Homo sapiens: one gene and its partner. The protein of the gene in region 1 purifies or fractionates together with the protein of each later gene. This does not show direct contact. Each region holds a gene or a part of one and is shown on either strand. Other genes may lie near its edges.

Region 1 (7,907 bases):
CTACTGTCCTCTGGGGGGCAGGATCACCGCTAGTTGACAACCACTGCTGTAGAGAGAGGTATAATGAAATAAGCATGCTCCCAAAAGAAACTTAGGAACCTTTAAGAACTTTACAAAGAAATGAATGAAGAGAGAAACTATTGGCAGTTGGGAGCAGAAATGGGTAATTGCAGTTGTCTTGCTTTGTTGCAATTTTTTCAGTTCCAAAGCAAGCCCTGTGTGTTTAGTGGGGGCTCAGGGAATCCTGCAGGGTAACGTAGGACTTCTCTGCCTTCTCAGGACTGTGGCACTCCTGGCGAGCATTCAGTCCTCTTCACCTTCTGTAAAGGTAATCAGTGATGGCCAATCACAATGAACAGACATAGAGGCAGGAAGCAAATCTGGGCTGAGCCACAGGTTGGGTCAGGAGGGGTTGTGGGGAAGGAAGAGAAAGGAGACGTTCTCTTCTGCTGGTCGTGGGACAGTTCTGTGGGCCAGACTCCTGGGAAGCAGTGGCAGAAAGCTGAGGAATAGGCTCTACTGCAGTCTTGATAATGAAGACCAATGCATGCATTCTAAACTGAGTTATCTCCAATTCTCACCTCTTCCTCTGTGGCTGCACTGGAGGAGGCACAGGCACTGCTCCCTGGGACGGCTGGCCTGCTCTCCTATGCCCTAGAGAGCTCAGTGCAGCATCCCACATGCCTCGTCTCCACCCAGCAGCCTCACTCATGACCTGCATGGGGCAGATGTCACCAGTATCTTTCAACAGCTTCCCCTCTGACAATTGTCAAAGGAAACAGAAGGCAGCAAAGATGCGGAAGCAATGACTAGGATTTCAGGGTGTGAAACAAGCCTCTCTCCTTCGAAAGCAACCGCAACAATCTTCAGCAGGAACCAGCAGGCAGAGGCACCCTCAGCGGCCGACCCTTCTGTCGGGCGTGACCTACAGCATCCTGTATTTTGATCACACAACAACCACTTCAGTTCTGTGTCACTCTCGGTCCTCATAAATGGGGAAACAGACATGCCTATCCTGAGATCCCTTAAGGGGACATGTACCTCTCTGAACCACGTTCCCGTGTTCAGCACTACCCTTGAGAGGGTGTGACATCTGAGCCACCTAGGAGGTTCGTCTGCTTGTTACAAATATTTTAGGCAGAATAATTCAAGCTAAAGCGAACATCCTTGGAACTCCTGAAGGGGAAAAGAACTCAAAATGAATGGGGCAATAGAGAGCTAAGGAGAGGCTTTGTCTTGTAAATGCGCGTGGGCTGAAGCACACGTATGAATGACCTGCCCCGTGTCTTGGTTTCCCAAGGCAGCCAGGGCAGAGCTCTGCCCACGTTGTCTTGAGCTGGGGCCTGCAGGGGAACTCAGAGCAGCCAGCATCAGCAGTGAGTTAGTTCCACAGCTTATCTGGGTTCAGTGACAACCAACTCTTCTGGTCTTACAGAGGACCAAGAATTGTTCCAGGACGGGGGAGTTAAGGAACCCTTAGGAAGAAGGTGTCTTCTCCCCTCAGAACACTGACCACTACACCTCCTGTTTGATGTCACATCATCCCCTCCCCATCCCACCCCATCTCCTCCCTACATCTCTCTTCACCAGTAGGATAAAACAACACAAGCACTTGTTTATGGCCAATGCCCAGAGCTGGCCCTCTGGGCAACAAAGACCCTGAACGAAATAAAACACAGAGGAGATGGAGAACAAAAACGGGCAGAGCGCACTGAAGCTTGCAGGCCTAACTGCCTCATTTCCTGTGGGCACATGCTGACATGTGAGAGGACCCCTTAAACAACCGGAGATACAAGAAATGGGGACATATCCAAGTGTTTTCCTTACAAAACTTAGTTACAGGGATGACTCATCTCCTTATCTCTAAATTTACAGATGTTGTAAGAAAAAGCAGGAGCCGTGGTGACTTTTACATTAATAGACAGCATAGAGATTTCATCACTGACAGCAGGAGGCTAGGAGCTGTTACATAATTCCACAAATGAGAGGGACACTATTTATTCCATTCCAGGGTTCATGAAAGACTTCACCTGAGAGGCTGGGTGCAGTGGCTCACGGCTGTAATCCCAGCACTTTGGGAGGCTGAGGCGGGTGGATCACCTGAGGTCAGGAGTTCAAGACCAGCATGACCAACATGGTGAAACCCTGTCTCTACTAAATACAAAAAATTAGCTGGGCAGGGTGGTGCATGCCTGTAGTCCCAGCTACTTGGGAGGGTGGGGCAGGAGAATTGCTTGAACCTGGGAGGCAGAGGTTGAACCTGGGAGGCAGAGGTTGCAGTGAGCCGAGATTGCACCATTGCACTCCAGCCTGGGCAACAAGAGTGGAACTCTGTCTCAAAAAAAAAAAAAAAAAAAAAAAAAAGACTTCCCCTGAGAAATTACACAGGTGATGGGTGAAGAAGGCTCCTTTATTGCCACACATGAATGGCACAGGCCCAATAGGAAGACTCTGGAATCAGGAAGGCTTTCTTCCAGCTGTGAAGGAAATGTCTTGGAGACACTTCCTTGTCCATCACACCACAATGCTAGTCTGTGAAGCTAGCAGAAACAGACCAGAGATCCCCAGGCTAGGAAGCTATGTACAAGGCAGGGCAGCTGTTGAAGGCAGGTCAAGTTCTAGAAAACTCTTGCTACTTAGGGCAGTGCTGCTTTTGCCTGGGAGGGTTGGTAGCAACCTGAGTCAACCATCTGATTATTCCAACCCTCTGGCTACTTATCCAGGCAAGAGGGCCCTGTGATGTAACAACTATGACCAATCATACGTTACATAGAGAAGATAAACTGCGTGTGTGTTGGGGGCAGCCAGAGGTAACACAGACCTAAGACAGTGAGAATCAATCATTCTAATTGTTCTAATTGCAGAGTCCACCAAACTGTAATTAGAAGTCTCTGTATGCTTTCGCTGCTTCTTACGCCATCCAAGACTATAAAAGTTGTGCAATTTAAAATTCAGTAAAGACCAAAGCGGTTTCCAACTGCTGAGATGAGCAAAACCCAGAGTCAACAGCTGTCAATCACTGTTCATCTGAAGGGCAGCACTGCAGGCAAGTGTGGTAGCCTGGAGATGAACATTATTTCTTTATTTTTGAGACAGAGTTTCGCTCTTTTTGCCCAGGCTGGAGTGCAACGGCTCGATCTCAGCTCACTGCAACGTCCGCCTCCCGGGTTCAAGCGATTCTCCTGCCTCAGCCTCCCGAGTAGCTGGGATTACAGTGCCACCATGCCCGGCTAATTTTGTATTTTTAGTAGAGACAGGGTTTTACCATGTTGGCCAGGCTGGTCTTGAACTCCTGACCTCAGGTGATCTGCCCGCTTCAGCCTCCCAAAGTGCTGGGATTACAGGCGTGAGCCACCGTGCCCAGCCCGGGATTAACATTATAAACAGCATGGCGATTTTGTTTGGCTTGACCACTCTGACAAACACCTTAAAAAGAGAATAAATCTGACTTACATTCTGAGCCACCACAGCAGCACTGTAGTCGCTGCCCCATGGAACTCCCCCATCCTGCTTCCACTATGGTCTGCTCAAGCAGCAGCACTCACTAGTCCCATCTCCAGCAAGCAATGTGCTTTTCTAGAAGCCAGGAACACTTAAGTGAGCAAAAGGTTCTATAAGTCACACTCACGTAGGAAGAGTAGAGTTCCCCGGTCTCTGTAATTTCACCCGCCATTTCCAAAAGTGAGGAAGGGCTGGCAGCAGAGGTTCCTTAGGTGCAAGGACGGCGGCTGCCGCAGCTCCTTAAAACAAAAGAGCAGGCTTCACCTATCTGATGGACTGAGACAGGGGTGGGAGGAGGCTTGCAGACTTCCCCTGCCACCTCTGGTTCTTTTATCACAGACACTTAGGGCCTCAGTATCTGTCACAAGACTCACCCCCGAGGGAGGGGTCACCCTGGATGACAGAAATCTGGACGGTTTCTTCTAACATTTCCCTTGCTGTGCAGGGCACTGCTCTGTGCCCAGCACGGATGTTTTCAATGCTGCTCGGGGTGCAAGTGATTTAAGGGGCCTCTAAAACCACTAAGTCTCACCCACCACAAGAGCCCCCTTTCCACGCTCTGGGGTGGTTATCCTCGTTTAGTTCCAGGAACCAGGAGCTCACTACCACACATGGGAGCCCAAGGAACTGTCTGCCGCCTCTGCCTAGGGCAGGGAGCTGGGGGCTTTCCTACATTGCCCTTCCAACTCCACTCTTGGCACTAAGGCCTCCTTTTTTTAATGGGGCCTCCACTCCCTGGCCCCACCTACTCTCTTAGGGTTCCCCACCCTCAAAGCTCCCTCTTTTCTCAAGAACCCCACTCCCAGCCTCTCCCTCTCTCTCCCTCCTGGAGGAGTCCCGAGTCTAGTGCCGCCCCGCCCCGCCCCAACCTATCCCGACCCGTCTCGTCCTCTCCCGCCCGTCCCGACCCGACCCGACCCAACACCTGCAGCACAGCCAGCTCCCAAGCCGCCGTCTCCCGCCGGTCCGCTGCTGCCGGCGCCAGCTGTCCAGCACCAGCTTCCGCAGCGCGCATGCGCCGGCCCCACAGCCCACCTTTTTCGCGCGCGCTGATTGGGCGCCTCGCGGGGGCGGGACCGGGATTGGGGCCTGGCGGCTGCCGTCAGCATGGCGGAAGTGGGCGGGGCGCGTTCTCACGCGCATGCGGAAGGGGCGGTAGCCGGCCGGGCCTGGGAACGTGGCTGGTTGGAGGAGGTAGATCACCCTTTCTGCGGGGGACGATTTCGTCGGTGGTAGGTGGGTGTGAGCTTGGCAGTACCCGGGTCCGCGTGGTTGGAGGGTCGAAGAGAGTGGTCTAGAACGCCACTCAAAGGGGAGGGCCTAAGACTAAGCCCGCCTTGCCCTGAAGTGGTCGGGGGCGGGGAGGGAGTGGCTAGAGCCCCGTGGGGTGGTCGCCGGGGTAAGAGGTTGGAAGTAGGTTTAAGGCAGGGCTGAAAGTTGATTCTGGGTTGGAATCCCTGGACTGGGGCAAGTAATGGGAGCTCTGGGGATACTTTGGTACTTGGTACTTGGTGCTTGGGTTTGAGGAATCGAAGTTCTGGGGAGTGGACGGAAGGAACCGGCAGAAACGGAGCCCAGGCTTGGCCTCTTGGAGTGGGAGTCAAGGATTGTTTAATTATCCTTAACCAGCCTGGTTCTCTTTCTTGCAAGAATTTTGGAGTCTGTATTCTTTGAAGTGTCTAGACGGAACTAATGACGGAAGTCAACTTAGCCCCAGCAGGAAAGCTGGAGCGCCTACCCAAAGTTGGAGGAAATTCAGGGTCCTGAAGTCTTTGCTCTCCCCATCTGCATGCAGGCTGCTACCATGAGGTTGAATCAGAACACCTTGCTGCTGGGGAAGAAGGTGGTCCTTGTACCCTACACCTCGGAGCATGTGCCCAGGTATCTTTCCCGCTTGACATGGGGTGCGTATCAGCACCCAGAGCTGTGTAAGGTACAGCCCCAGTCTCAGGGCTATTTCCCCTAAGAAGAAACATTGGTTGTGAGAAATAATTATATATGAGGGGGGAAAAAAGGCTGGGTGCCGTGGCTCACGCCTGTAATTCCAGGACTTTGGGAGGCTGTGGCAGGAGGATTGCTTGAGCCCAGCAGTTCGAGACCAGCTTGGGTAACGTAGCGAGACCTTGTCTCTACAAAAAAATACAAAAATTAGCCAGGCATGGTGGTGCACAGCTGCAGTCCCAGCTACTAGGGAGGCTGAGGTGGGAGGATTGCCTGAGCCCAGGAGATGAAGACTGCTGTGAGCTGTGATTGTACCACTGTACTCCAGCCTGGGTGACAGAGCAAGAACCTGTCTCAAAAAAAAACAAAAAAAACAAAAAAACAAAAACAAACAAAAACAAAAAAACGGCCGGGTGCGGTGGCTCACGCCTGTAATCCCAGCACTTTGGGAGGCTGAGGCGGGTGGATCATGAGGTCAGTAGTTCAAGACCAGCCTGGCCAACATGATAAAACGCCATCTCTACTAAAAACACAAAAAATTAGCTGGGCTTGTTGCCCGGCACCTGTAATTCCAGCTACTTGGGAGGCTGAGGCAGGAGAATCACTTGAACCAGGGAGGTGGAGGTTGTGGTGAGCCGAGATCACACCACTGTACTCCAGCCTGGGCAACAGAGTGAGACTTTGTCTCAAAAATAAAATAAAATAAAATAAAGGCTGGGCGCAGTGGCTCACGCCTGTAATCCCAGCACTTTGGGAGACCGAGGCAGGCGGATCACAAGCTCAGGAGAGCGAGACCATCCTGGCTAACATGGTGAAACCCCGTCTCTACTAAAAATACAAAAAAATTAGCCGGATGTGGTGGCGGGCGCCTGTAGTCCCAGCTACTCGGGAGGCTGAGGCAGGAGAATGTGTGAACCCGGGAGGCGGAGCTTACAGTGAGCCGAGATCGCGCCACTGCACTCCAGCCTGGGTGACAGATCGAGACTCCGTCTCAAAAAAAAAAAAAAAAAGAGACCAGCCTGATCAACGTGGAGAAACCCCGTCTCTAATAAAAATACAAAAAAAATAGCTGGGCATGGTGGCACATGCCTGTAATTCCAGCCTGGGCAACAAGAGTAAAACTCTGTCTCAAAAAAAAAAAAAAAAAAAATAGCAGAACCTGGGGACTGTGACTTCCTTGGGAGGAGCTGCCCATCCTCTTCCCTTTCATTCTCTCAGCTTTTTGGCCTTTCAGCAAGGAATTGCTTTATGTAAACTAAACGTGGAAGAAAAAGAAATTGTCTTCTCACCTAATTGTAAATTAGTGATGTTTCCCTGGTGCCAGTGAGTATGTTCAGTTCTTGGAGACTTAATGTTAGCTTGTCCTTGAACTCTGAGCTGATGAGTTGTGATATCTACCATTCAAAAGGCCAGGACTGAGTCATGATGGGATTCCTGTGGGGGCAGTTGGCACATGTCTGGTAGATTGGGATAGTGGTGCTGTAGATGGGTATTCTCTACTTGTAGTTTTCCGTTTGAGGGTTCCTGGTGCCCTAACTTCGTGGGATCTGTCCAGCCGCCTTTGTTGAGGTTGGCTTGCCATATACATCCCCTTCTGGAATTTGAAGAATGTTTGGTTTCAGACTGCTCCTCCGCACTGACCCGAGACAGGATAGGAAATTGGACAGATAGAACTGACTCGTCCTGCTGTTCTTGTGTAAGACTAGCTTGCTTCTGGGTCTTGTGTCTGTGGCCCCTGCCTTAGGAGCAATCATAACCCTTTGGGTCTTCTTTGAGCCCTATGTTAGCCCTGTCTGGTTCTGGACCCTCATAAGGTGTCAGACGTATGCCTCTGAATGAGTCCTCCATGTCTAAAGCCACCCCTCTGTCCCAGCAGGTACCACGAGTGGATGAAATCAGAGGAGCTGCAGCGTTTGACAGCCTCGGAGCCGCTGACCCTGGAGCAGGAGTATGCCATGCAGTGCAGCTGGCAGGAAGATGCAGACAGTGAGGAGTGCCCCCCCACTTCCCCTAGCCCTGGTACTGGGAGGGCTGACTCCACAGTCAGTCTCCAGGTTCCTTCCCTTTCCCAGCCCCGGCCATAGAAGCTTTGTGAAAAGCCTGGAAGGTGCTGGAACTCCTGTATTCTCATGGCCCTGAAGCCAGTCCCTGTGGCTGACCCTTCTGTCCTCTTCCCCACCCACTGCATCGGGCTTGGAAGGATTTGGAGAAAGTAGAGCATTTGGGGCTCTGGCTGTAAATTGAGGCCCTGCCCCTCATGTCCCTCACCACAGCCTAGTGTGGTGACTGCCCTCCTCTGTGTTCCCTGCTCTCTGAGAATTTGGTTGCTGGTTGGAGAGGCTTTTTCTGTATGAGGCAGATTTGGAATTTTGTAATGAGCTGAAGGAAGCTCTGGGACCCCCTCTTCTCCTGGCAGACTCAGAGATGCTGGTGTTCTGCAGTGCTCTGGCTTGGGTAGGAGTACC
Region 2 (7,691 bases), on another chromosome or scaffold:
GAATAGAAGTGGTGAGAGAAGTCATCCTTGTCTTGTGCTGGTTTTCAAGGGGAGTGCTTCCAGCTTTTGCCCATTCAGTATAATGTTGGCTGTGGGTTTGTCATAGATGGCTCTTATTATTTTGAGGTATGTTCCTTTAATACCTAGTTAATTGATAATTTTTAACATGAAGGGTTGTTGAATTTTATTGGAAGCCTTTTCTGCTCTATTGAGGTAATTATGTAGTTTTTGTCTTTAGTTCTGTTTATGTGATGAATCACATTTATTGATTTGCAAATGTTGAACAGACCTTGCATTCTGGGGATGAAGCCTACTTGATCATGGTGGATTAGCTTTTTGATGTGCCGATTGATTTGGTTTGCAAGTATTTTGTTGAGGATTTTGACATTAATGTTTGTCAAGGATATTGGCCTAAAGTTTTCTTTTTCTGTTGTGTTTCTGCCAGGTTTTGATATAAAGATGAGGCTGCCCTCATAGAATTAGTTGGGGAGGAGTTCCTCCTCAGTTTTTTGGAATAGCTTTTCTGTAGGAATGGTACCATCTCTTATTTGTACATCTGATAGCATTCAGCTGTGAATCCATCAGGTCCCAGGCTTTTTTTGGTTGATAAACTATTTATTACTGATTCAATTTCGGAGGTTGTTATTGGTCTATGCAGGGAATCAATTTATTCCTGGCTCAGTCTTCGGAGGTTGTATATGTCTAGGAATTTATCTCTCTTCTAGGTTTTCTGGTTTGTGTGCATGGAAGTGTTCATAGTAGTTTCTCATGGTTGTTTTTATTTCTGTGGGTTCAGTAGTAACATTCCCTTCATCATTTCTAATTGTGTTTATTTGGCTCTCCTCTCTTTTCTTCTTTATTAGTCTAGCTAGTGGCTTGTCTATTAATTTTTTCAAAAACCCAACTCCTGGATTCTGATTTTTTGTTGTTGTTGTTGTTGTTTTAATTTAATTTAATTAATTTTTTTTTTTTTTTGAGATGGAGTCACTGTGTTGTCCAGGCTGGAGTGCAGTGGCACGATCTCGGTTCTCTGCAGCCTCCACCTCCCAGGTTCAAGCAATTCTCCTGCCTCAGCCTCCCAAGTAGCTGGGACTAGGCAGTCACGTGCCGTGACACCCAGCTAATTTTTGTATTTTTAGTAGAGACAGTGTTTCACTATGTTGGCCAGGCTGGTCTTGAACTCCTGACCTCAGGTGATCTGCCCACCTCGGCCTCCCAAAGTGCTGGGATTACAGGCGTGAGCCATCATATCATGCCCAGCCTCATTGATCTTTTGGAAGGTTTTTTGTGTCTCAGTTTTCTTCAGCTCAGCTCTAATTTTTGTTATTTCTCATCTTATTCTAGCTTTTGGGTTGTAAATCAGAATTTTCATTAGAGGTTGCAAAATGACGTTTTTCTGTTCTACATTATTAGCTAGTATTCTTCCATAATGTAGAGCTTCTCATCAACTGGGCTGCTTAGTGCATTTCTACTGAAGAGGCAGGAATGTACTTGATCCTTCCTTTTACTAAGTTTCAAAGTGAAGAGCTGTTTAAAATTGCAGTTTCAAGTGGTAACAAATGAGTTTTTTCAGTCTTTTTTTAAATAGCATTGTGGATCTATGGATTTTTTATTCAGTGTTTTAATCTTTTACAATCCCTACTTTTGATTTTCAAATTGCCGTGACTTTGACGAGTTGTGGGCAAATTTTTACTATAAAAATCTGAAGCACATGAGATTTCTGAACTAGAGATAGAAATTTAAGAGTTGTCAATGCATAAGTAGTGGCTCAAGTCACAGGAGTAAATGAAACTGCCAAAGGAGGATATAGGGTGGAAAACTAAGCAGCGCAGGTTAGCAACTTCCAGCATTTATAGGAAGAATCCTTACATATGGATTTATGAGTTGTTTTATTGAATTTTTTTCTCCAGTGTTTCACAAATTGTTTTATGAAATGACCAGAAATTACCAATTATCCTGATTGCTTTTTTCCCGAACCTGTTAATATTTGCTTCTTTCTATTTTGATTTATTGTTTTTGAACTTGAATTCTATCCAGCCCCTCAAGAATGTTAACTTATCTTTATGTTGAATATGCACAGTTGCAGTAAAAATTATTCTTTTTTTTTTTTTTTTTTTTGAGACAGAGTTTCACTCTTGTTGCCCAGGCTGGAGTACAATGGTGCAATCTCGGCTCACTGCAACCTCTGCCTCCCGGGTTCAAGCAGTTCTCCTGCCTCAGCCTCCCGAGTAGCTGGGATTACAGGCACACACCACCACGCCCAGCTAATTTTTTGTGTTTTTAGTAGAGACAGAGTGTTGCCATGTTGGCCAGGCTAGTCTTGAACTCCTGACCTCACATGATCCACCTGCCTCGGCCTCCCAAACTGCTGGTATTACAGGCATGAGCCACCGCGCCTGCCCTAAAAATTATTCTTTTAGGATAAGAAATGAAAAAAAATTTAACATTTTAGTATTAATTAAGAAATTCCTTGGGAGGCCGAGGTGGGCGGATCATGAGGTCAGGAGATCGAGACCATCCTAGCTAACACGGTGAAACCCCGTCTCTACTAAAAATACAAAAAATTAGCTGGGCATGGTGGCATGCGCCTGTAGTCCCAGCTACTTGGGAGGCTGAGGCAGGAGAATCACTTGAACCCAGGAAGTGGGGGTTGCAGTGAGCCGAGATCACACCACTGCACTCCAGCCTAGGTGACAGAGTGAGACTCTGTCTCAAAAAAGAAAAAAAAAAAGCAATTCCTAGAAAGCTAGATCAAAACCACCCATGCTGGTAGCACATACATAGTAAGTATAGGAGGTAAAAAAAATACGTTATATTCGGGACTATTACTGACTTGTTTTTTTGCTCAAAAAATGTTCCTTTTATAAACTAAAACCTTTATTGGTAATATAAAATTTTTTGTCACTGATATAAGATGCTAATATTTATCCATTTTCTGTTGGACATCTTTTAACAGACGTTTTCTACATATAAAAAGTATATCATATTACTAACATAGCAATGTTAGGTAAAAATGTCATTTGAATTTGAATTTTTATGGTATTTTAGTAAATAGGATTGATGGTAAATATTGAATGATATGATGACAGTGGTGGCAATAAAACCCAGTACCTTCATTGCACCAGACTGGAAACCTAGGTTCAGTTTCCAGTGAACTTGCCAGTTTTTAAAAAGCATCACTAATATCTCTTCATATCTCAAAGAAGGAATATAATATTGTTTGATGATAATAAAACTATATATTTTTATATCTCTTAAAAATTATATATTTATTTGATCAACCTGATATTTGGGAATTTAATACCATGTGCCTTGGAAATTTTTAGTACTCCATTGGAATAATGAAATAACAAAGTACTTTTAGTAACAAATTTCATCCACATATCATAAATAACCACAGGCTATTTTGACTCCTTATAGTCACTGTTGGAGGCCCATGATATTGTGGCATCAAAGTGTTATGATTCACCTCCATCAAGCCCAGAAATGAATAATTCTTCTATCAATAATCAGTTATTACCAGTAGATGCCATTCGTATTCTTGGTATTCACAAAAGAGCTGGGGAACCACTGGTGAGTACAGATAAATCAGTACCCTATTAAATCTGAAATATGACATAATTTGTGGTTCAGTCACTACTCTGTTTCATTTTTTTTCCTTTTCATAATGTTATGAAAACTGTATTCTTGTTTGGCCTGTGTATAAAGACACAGCTGATGCTTTCTCAACTTGGTTTAGCCTGCAAAATTTAACTAAAATGAAAAGTTAAACTGAGCTAGAAGTAGAAATATGGCAAGGGGTAGCAAAAAATTTCAGAAGATGACTATTATGTTTCTTCCTACCCTTTGAAGACATGAACTACCCTTTGAAGAAATACTGACAGTATCAAAATATAAAAAGAAGTTGTTATTAAAAATTGAAGCCATACTAGGACTCTCTAAGTAGTGAAGTTTACTATTCCTTGGTAAAATTATTACTTCTGGATCCTGACTATAAGAACAGTGAGTGCAAAAAAGGAAAAGCCAGGAATAAGTCCATCAGAATGCACAAATACCTTTTCCTGCTCTCTCGAGTTTCCATTTAGCCTGTAAGATACATCCTATCCACTAGTGTAATAAACTATACTAGTACACAGTTTAATGGGAGTGAAATATTGAGACAGGAGAGAACATGGGAAAAGTAAGAATGATTCATTTTACCTAGTTTTAGAATTATTTTCTTACATATGCTCATGAATATTTAAGCATTTCTCCCTAATAATTAATGAGAAATCTGTTTCTTATTTTTCATAGGGTGTGACATTTAGGGTTGAAAATAATGATCTGGTAATTGCCCGAATCCTCCATGGGGGAATGATAGATCGACAAGGTCTACTTCATGTGGGAGATATAATTAAAGAAGTCAATGGCCATGAGGTTGGAAATAATCCAAAGGAATTACAAGAATTACTGAAAAATATTAGTGGAAGTGTCACCCTAAAAATCTTACCAAGTTATAGAGATACCATTACTCCTCAACAGGTTAGTAATAAAATTTTTGGTAGTATTAAAAATACTTTCATGTTTTTAATCACAGTGTTGGAAATAACTATCAGTTGCTACTATTTTGCTAAAGAAAAGAGAAAAAATTGATTTGAGTGTTCTGAAATGGCTTATTTTGTCATGGGTGAATTTTTGAATTTTTAAACAATGCTATTTTACTATTGTAAAGGAAATAGTAGATTTCTTCATTAACACCAGGAACCCTGGCATAATAGTAACCTACAGCTAGGTATCAGAAGAACCATAAAGTCTTTGAATTACTAATCTAGTAAACATTTCTGACAGCTGTTATGTTCAGGCATTGTATTAGGCCCTGGGAGAGGATAAAAATGCAGTCCAGATCACCTCCAGCTTAGTGTTTGTGTCATGGGTGAAATGACTGATGAGGCCAGAAAAGAGGATGGGTATAAAGAAAATCTTGGACCCCTGGTTTGCACACATTTGATCTGTATTTTAAAACTAATTTTAGGTAAACTAGGTAATTGAACGGGAAAATGTTTTAGTTATAGAGATTGTCTAGACTCGGTATGTTAAGTGAATTCAAAAAGAAGAGAGATGAGATTATGTAACCAGGTGGCAGATTTTTGAAGGTGTGAGGTGATTTGTGAACAACAGCTCTAATGAATGGTTAAGATGACCACTTAGGTTCAAATACCAGTGCTGCCAGTTATCAGCTTACCTTCTCTGTGCTTCATTTTTCTCATCTATATAGTTAGGGATAAAATTTGTTTTCTCAAAAGATTGTTATGAGGATTAAACGAGTTAATTCATGTAATGCTCTCACAGCAACACCTGGCACATAATGAGTGCTCAAGAAGTGGCTGCACTTGCTGTGGTGATGACGCAGTAGTGGTGAAATGGAACCGTAAAGAAAGAAAAAGAAATTGCGGAGGAAGAATTGAAAATTATGATAGGAGTGTTGGAACCAAAGAGAGGGTTTTCAAGCCTAAGTAATGTAGAAGTAGATGCCTCTAATGCTTAGGTTTATTCCAGAAATTTATTGTTTGATGTATGAATGAAATTATAAGTTTTCTTACATAAGATACTGCCAGTGTATCTTATTTCATATTGTTAAAATGAGAGTTTAAAAGTCTAGTTCTTACATTTCCATACAGTTATTTGAAATAACATTTCATTGAATGTCTATTTTAAACTGTTCTTTCAAAGGTAAGGATAGATTATTTAGTCATTAATATTAGCATGTAAATTGAACTTATGAAAATAGATAGGCTTGTAATTAACTTTGGTTGAAATGAAGGTAGTTTTGTGGTCCTCAAGGAAAAGAATTGTGAAAAATAAATGATATTAGTACTTAGACATTTCATATCACTAGTACCTCTCAGGCTACCTTTATTCCTCAGTTGGCAACTTTCAATTTGTGACAGCCTGAGGCCTTATCTTGGACCTGCGTACGCTGGAAGAGTAAAATCTAGGATTTACGTATTTTATTTATTATTATGTGTTAGTTGTAGTAGGAAGATCTTATTTTCCTTCTGTGGTCTAAACTCCAGAATTCTTCTAGCTCACCATGGCTATAAGAGACTTTTACAGGCAAAATAAAATTTTATAATATTAATAACTAGGGCTTTGGCCCAAATTCCTACATAGATTTTGCATCTGGTGAACTAACTGAATACCATGAAATGCAAGGACATTTAGCCTTGTTTAAACATAAGTTTTCCACATTCCATACCCTCTCAAACTCTGCTTTTCACTTAGCATTTAGAGCTGGGGAAATGAATTCAAGTAGGAGAGGAGGAGTCTTATAAGTCCGAGGTAGCCTGAGGCGTGTCCTCCCATAAAGAAGTAAAGAAACTATAACATGAAGGCTTCCAAAAGAACATCCAAATTGAGACTTTTTTTTTTTTAAATGAAAAGGGGAACATTACTCATATGCTGGAATAATAGGCATAAACCAGGGCATCTGCAAACCATGGGCATCCTACTGAGATGCTATAGGGAAGCAAGGGCATTTTGCGTCTTCAACTCTTTCACTAAAATCTCCACCATGTAGTGCTGTGGAGCTAGTCTCAGCTCTGGATTGCTGCAAGAGCAAATGAAAGCCAAGAACTCTTCCCTACCACGGTAATGTTTTTCAAAAGCATAGTCAGTAGATGATCTTTATCAGAATCGTTTCAGGTGCTTGGTAAAAGTCCAGAATCTGCTATGGGACATAAGTATCTATGTTTTAAATTTTGAGGGCCAGAGTGAGTTAGAAGTAGCCAATTCTGAAGTTCTTCAACTTTCTTATAGCTTAGATTTCCGGGGGCTATTCGTAATTCCATTTGTTTATTAAGGCCAACTGATAGGAATTCTCTCTTATTCTTTGGAACCAACATGACCTGGACAACTAGAAACAATATAAGAAAATATATTACAGGACTGTTTCATTCAAGGATATACATTAAAAATTCTCAACAAAATATTAGCAAATCAGATTTGATTGTGTATATAACAAAGATGATACAACATATCCAAGTTAGATTTATTATCCCAGGTATGCTAGGAGAGTTTCATATTAGAAAATCCATATGTATGTAACTAAGCACATTACCAGATGAAAAGAGAATAACCTCAATGGAGAATTTGATAAAATTCAATGATTTTTAAAAAATGATTAGTAAATTAGGAACAGAAGGGAAAAGCCTTAATTTTATTACAAAAAAAAAAAATAGAACAAACATTATTCTGAATTAACTAATGTTAGAAGCTTTCCCTTTAAAGTCAGAAACTGGCCTTGCAGCTGGTCTGCCTGAGACCTCTAGTGCCAACCCCAATACCCCACGAAGTTTAATTTCCACTCACGAAATTCCACTTTCGTTTTCATTATAAAATGAAAAAGCCCTCACAAACCATGAAAAACTTGCCAGATTTCAAGCACAATTGTGCACTGGTAAAAAGGAACTGCCCTCAGATGATACAGCAAACATTATCTGTTAAAACAGATGATAAAAAAAATCTTCAGTTTTCCTGAAAGAAAGTAGAAATAGGCAATATCTCTGATACTAAAGAGGTATGTCTGCAAACCAAGGAATGGTGATCTTCATTAACAATCCCAGTGTTCAGACATCTCTAGCAGCGAACACTTTGACCATTACCAGACATGCTGAGACAAAGCAGCTAACAGAAATGCCACCCAGTGTCTTAAA

Evidence for each region.
Region 2: the proteins of NAT9 (region 1) and PALS2 purify together in Homo sapiens (affinity purification with mass spectrometry; 2 studies listed by BioGRID and IntAct, with this or other methods). This does not show direct contact.

What each region holds. Positions count from the first base shown.
Region 1 is NC_000017.11:74,773,097-74,781,003, reverse strand, and holds the start of NAT9 (alpha/beta-tubulin-N-acetyltransferase 9), read left to right. Parts: upstream 1-4,658; 5' UTR 4,659-4,737; intron 4,738-5,151; exon of another isoform or gene 5,152-5,290; coding exon of another isoform or gene 5,291-5,305; coding exon 5,306-5,382; exon of another isoform or gene 5,383-5,400; coding exon of another isoform or gene 5,401-5,405; intron 5,406-6,600; exon of another isoform or gene 6,601-7,138; intron 7,139-7,315; coding exon 7,316-7,428; intron 7,429-7,907. Other genes in the region: SLC38A12 (transmembrane protein 104), read right to left, coding at 3,629-3,673. UniProt on the Homo sapiens protein: N-acetyltransferase that mediates the acetylation of the N-terminal residues of alpha- and beta-tubulin.
Region 2 is NC_000007.14:24,646,192-24,653,882, forward strand, and holds part of PALS2 (protein PALS2), read left to right. Parts: intron 1-3,420; coding exon 3,421-3,573; intron 3,574-4,293; coding exon 4,294-4,521; intron 4,522-7,691.